Linked DNA regions of Homo sapiens: region 1 is linked to region 2. The links come from fine-mapping of genetic effects on gene expression. Tissue or cell type: tibial nerve. Region 2 holds a variant in brackets; the other region holds the start of a gene. All regions are shown on one strand. Distances are between the middles of the regions.

Region 1 (2,602 bases), 860 kb before region 2:
CAGAAACCCTCCCTGGGATAGTCCCAGTCCATGTAACAAGTGTTTGTTTCCATCTAACCTGATGACTGGGTCTTCAAACACAGAACTTGTTTTCCCTGCTGGAGCAGCTTTGATGAGCTGAGTCTTCTTGAGCTCCCGAACATATTTCTCCTCCTCAGTTAGCTCCTCCACTGGCTTGCGATAATATTCCTTGTCAATCAAGGGATCCTTGAATTCAGGACTATAGCGGCTCCATCTCACCTGAGTTAGCCTGGGAGGGGGGGAAAGGAGGAGGCAGGCAAAAGCTGACTCCACAAGCGAGTAGGTTTGACTTAACAATAGGCATGACTGCCAACGCGCCGACGAGGGGGAGCGGCGCGGAGACCGCGAGCTAAACCTGAGCCACAACAATTCAGGCCCTTGTCCCAAGTAGGAGGACATTCCCCAAGCAGGCGGGTAAAGTCTCCTCCTGGTCAAGTGCTAACGGTAAGGATGGGCTTGGCGCCTACACACCCATCCCAATTCACAGGCGATCCCAGATCTGAGCTCTTTAGCTGAACCGCACTTTCAGCTCCGCGTTAGAACCCTAGATCAGCCAGACTCCTTAGGCGAGAGGTAGTCACTAAACCTTCGGATTGGCGCAGGGTCACGCAGCTAACTTAGAAGCTTGAATCCAGATACTCCGGCCCCCAGGGCAATGCTCTCTCTAGGGGCCCACGCGGCCTGCCTGTGGCCCCCTTCCTTCCTCGCAGCGCCCCCCCGCCGCTGCTCGCCACCCTCTCACCCTGGAAGCTGCAAGACAGCCCGCCGCACGCCCAACGCCAGGCCCGACCATCCTCGGGCAACCTTCACTGCGGGGGCAGCCATCTTGGCTGGCCACGAGGACCCCACAAGGACTGCCCTCGGCGCGCCTGAGCGAGTGACGGGAAACGGGTGAAAAAGACTCCTCAGGGTCCTAAATCTGCGTTTCTCTCCACTGATCTGGACGTTAGAGTTTTTCACTCCGGGGTCCAAAGGGGAGCGCCAAAAGGAAACCCTTGCCCTCCCTGTATCCGTCGCAGTCTGGCGCGGCCCTCGGTGACGGCACTCACTCCTCTCAGGACCCCATGCAGGCCCCGCCCCGTCTCAGCTCGTGCAGACTCTCGCGAGTTTTGAAGCCGCGGGGCCGGGCGGCTGCAATATGGCGGAGGCGGAAGGGGAAAGCCTGGAGTCCTGGCTCAGTGAGTAGCCGCGGCCGTTTCTGCCTGCCCTCGAGCCGCTGGGCTGCCCCTGTCTTCACCCCCACGTCCCCTCCCCGGGCTCCACGGCGTCGCCTCTTGGCAGCCCACGCCCGGTCTCGCCCTCGCCGCGAGCAGCCTGCGATCACGCCCCTTCCCTATCAGGGCGCCGGGCCCCAGTCCGGCCCCCGCTTCCCTCGCTGCGGCGCGTCCTCTTGCTCTGGCGCGCGGCGGCGTGAACTCGGGCTCCTGTCGGGCACCGCAGGCTCGGGGAAAGGCGACAGCCAAGATCTTCGGGCTGACATGCTTCGGCGCTTTGGGGAGATTGTGGTGGGGTCGCCGCCCGGCGGTGACACCAGGAACCCAGCGCCCCAATCCCTGACTAAGGGAGAAGCTTCGGATTGGGGCTGAGTCTCCGGTAGTGGTGGGTGCTGCCGACTGCGTTCAGTCGCCTGGCAGCTTCAGAATTGTGACCATGTGTTGGAGAAGTGACGGCTTCGCTCAGGCAGAATGCTTGAAGTGAGAATAATATTCCAAAGAGAGCGATGATAGAGAACAGAGAGCTCTACCTTTTTCCTGCAGTGACCACAGAAGCATGGTGAAATCGGTGTCGGGAATTCCCCCCCCACACACATACATATACCCCCTTGAATATCCTAACGAGTCAGTGTTGATAGCCTATTCTGAGTAAGGCTGAGGAGCACAGTCTGAAGCTGTAGTTATAGAAGCGTATTGCTGTCATTGCACTGTGAATTACAGTGCTACGAAGGAAATGTGTGTTAACCTGGTTAGCAGGTAGTACTCTGCCTGAGGGTTAATAAGTGAACTTTCCTGTAGGCTAGACCTGGAAGCCTCCTTTAAGTGGAGAGAGAAATTGGACTGGTAATGGGATAGGTGAGATACCTAGTATTGCCTTGTTCTGAGGTCTCTTATTTAGTACTGCTTCCGGGATCTTGGAGGTGATAGCTATTTCCTCAAATTGTCTGATTTTTCCTAGTAAGAAACCCCCTTCAGGAGGTTGAGCTTCAGTTTAAAGGGGAGCATATCCCAAAAGAGAGAAAAAGTAAGATCACGTTTGCAAAATCTGCAGTTGCAGGCAGGTCATAAGGCTTCTTTATATATGGAAGTGTTCTCCAAGGAGCTCAAAGTACTTTACAGATATTCATTAAATTAGTTTACCAAGTATTCTAGCAAAGCAGGCACTACTGCCATAATTTCACAAAAAGAGGACATCCTGACTCCAGTCAAACCACTTGCCCAGAAATGCCCAACTTGCTATAACCAGAGTGGAATTAGTTTGCTTTGAAGGTATTAATATGGGTATTGAATAATTTAAATGACCTAAGCTGAGTTTAATAGGCTACATTTAGAGTTACATTTTGTTTTTGTTACTTGTTTTTGAGACA
Region 2 (2,753 bases):
ACTATTGATATACACAACACCTGCGATGAACCTCAAAGGCATTATTCTAAAGAAAAGAGCCAGTCAAAAGGTTATATCACGTAAAAGTCCATTTCTATGACGTTCTCAAGAAGACAAAATTACAGAGAACATGTTAGCCATTTCTAGGCAGAGGCTGGGGTGGGGAAAGAATGTGGCTCCCTGAAGGGGACTCTTGAGGAGGTTTCTTGGGGCGATGGAACTAGCTGTATCCTGATTGTGAAGGTGATTATGCAAATCGAAACAACAACAACAACAAAAATCAACTTTACTATATATTAATTTTATTTATTTATTTATATTTATATATTTTTATTTTCTGAGACAGTGTCTCACTCTGTCTGCCACCCAGGGCCCAGGCTGGAGTGCAGTGGTGCGATCTTGGCCCACTGCAACCTCCATCTCTCAGGTTCAAGTGATTCTTCTGCCTCAGCCTCCTGAGTAGCTGGGATTACAGGCACCCACCATCACATCTAGGCTAATTTCTGTATTTTTAGTAGAGACAGGGTTTTACCATGTTGCCCAGGCTGGTCTTGAACTCCTGACCTCAAATGATCTGCCCTCCTTGGCCTCCCAAAGTGCTGGCATTACAGGTGTGAACCACTGTGCCTGGCCAGTTTTACTATATATTAATATTTAAAAGTAAATAGAAATAAGGAAGGGGAGGTGAATTAAGAAAAAGGAAAAAAAAATTTTTTTTTTTTTTGAGACAGGGTCTCGCTCTGTCCCCCAGGCTGGAGTGCAGTGGTGTGATCACGGCTCACTACCGCCTCAACCTCCTGGGGCTCAAGCAATTCTCCAACCTAGCCTCCCTAATAGAGGCATGTGCCACCACATCTGGCTAATTTTGGGATTTTTTGTAGAGGCAGGGTTTTGTCATGTTGCCTAGGCTGGTCTCAAACTCCTGGGCTCAAGTGATCCTCTCCTCTTAGCCTCCCACAGTGTTGGGATTACCGCTATAAGCCACCGCACCTGGCCTCACTCTCTGCTTCAAAGATAGCACCTTCTTGCTGTGTCTTCACAGGGCAAAAGTGAACAAGCTCCCTCCAGCCTCTTTTTTTTTTTTTTTTTTTTTTTTTGAAACAGTATTTCATCTTGTTGTCCAGGCTGGAGTGCAATGGCACGATCTTGGCTCACTGCAACCTCCACCTCCTGAGTTCAAGCGATTCTCCCGCCTCAGCCTCCTGAGTAGTTGGGATTACAGCATGCACCACCATGCCCGGCTAATTTTGTATTTTTAGTAGAGACGGGGTTTCTCCATGTTGGTCAGGCTGGTCTCCAACTCCCAATCTCAGGTGATCTACCCGTCACAGCCTCCCAAAGTGCTGGGATTACAGGCATGAGCCACCGCACCCAGCACTCCAGCCTCTTTTATAAGAGCACTAATCACCTCCCAAATGCCCCACCTCTTAATACCATCACATTGGAGAGTAAGTTTCAACATATGAATTTAGGTGGGGCACAAACAGACCACAGCACAGTCCAAAAAGTAACTCCCCTAAAAGTCACTCAGGTAGGATGTAGCTGAGCTAGAATCTGACGCCATTCTCTGACAGCTGGTTCCTGAGCCCATATG[T/C]ACTGTGGTCTAGATCATGTTCTAGGTGGAAATGGGGATAGCAGTGACCCAAGACCCCAGGTCTTGTCTGCTATAGAGTGAGGTAGAAAAAACCATGTGATGGGGAGCCCGAAAACCTGGATGCAGCCGGGCCTGGTGGCTCATGCCTATAATTCCAGCACTTTGGGAGGCTGAGGCTGAAGGATCACCTGAGGTCAGGAGTTCGAGACTAGCCTGGCCAACATGGTGAAACCCTGTCTCTATTAAAAATACAAAAATCAGCCGGGTGTGGTGGTGCATACCTGTAGTCCCAGCTACTAGGGAGGCTGAGGCAGGAGGATTGCTTGAACCCTGGCGGCAGAGGTTGCAGTGAGCTGAGATTGCACCACTGCACTCTAGCCTGGGTGACAAAGGAAAACCCTGTCTCATAAACAAAACAAAACAAGGCTGGGTGTGGTGGTCATGCCTGGAATCCCAGCACTTTGGGAGGCCGAGGCAGGTGGGTCACCTGAGGTCAGGAGTTCGAGATCAGCCTGGCCAACATGGTGAAACCCCATCGCTACTAAAACTACAAAAATTAGCCAGATGTGGTGACGGGTGCCTGTAATCCTAGCTATTCAGGAGACTGAGGCAGGAGAATCGCTTGAATCCAGGGAGGTGGGGGTTGCAGTTAGCTGAGATCGTGCCACTGCACTCCAGCCTGGGCAACAGGAGCAAAACTCCATCTCAAAAAACAAAACAAAACAAAACAAAACAAAAATACCTGGTTGTGAGTCTTGGCTCAGCCACTTGCTGTGTGACTTCCACAAAGTCACCTCCCCTCTCTGAGCCTCCATTTCTTCATCTGAAAAGAAAGGACTGCCTCTGGATTGAAAGCAGCAACAGAAAAGGAGAAACTGTTTGCAAAATATGAATGTAAAATGGAATGATCGCTTCCCTCCACCACCTCGTTCTATCCTGGAACTTGCTTGCCTCTCAAGTACTGGTGTCATTTTATTCCATTACCGAGCCAGGGGTTCACCATTTTTTTTTTTTTTTTTTGAGACAGAGCCTCACCCTGTTGCCAGGCTGGAGTGCGGTGGCGCGATCTCGGCTCACTGCAACCTCCGCCTCCCGGGTTCAAGCGATTCTCCTGCCTCAGCCTCCCAAGTAGCTGGGACTACAGACAAGTGCCACCATG

The links. PIP is the estimated chance that this variant, and not a neighbour inherited with it, causes the effect.
Region 1: GGA3 starts here. The variant in region 2 is fine-mapped to the expression of GGA3 in tibial nerve (GTEx, PIP 0.97).

What each region holds. Positions count from the first base shown.
Region 1 is chr17:75,260,145-75,262,746 of GRCh38, reverse strand. It overlaps GGA3 (golgi associated, gamma adaptin ear containing, ARF binding protein 3), which reads left to right and starts at 1,141. Exons shown (of 17, transcript NM_138619.4): 1 at 1,141-1,199. The coding sequence starts at 1,160. It overlaps MRPS7 (mitochondrial ribosomal protein S7), which reads right to left and starts at 868. Exons shown (of 5, transcript NM_015971.4): 1 at 764-868; 2 at 59-250. The coding sequence starts at 846. RefSeq lists enhancers at 82-959, 756-1,165, 1,636-1,735.
Region 2 is chr17:74,396,390-74,399,142 of GRCh38, reverse strand. No RefSeq gene overlaps it. Among named protein-coding and RNA genes, the nearest start is that of GPR142, 30 kb to the right of the region's middle. The variant T/C (reference allele first, on the strand shown) is at 1,595.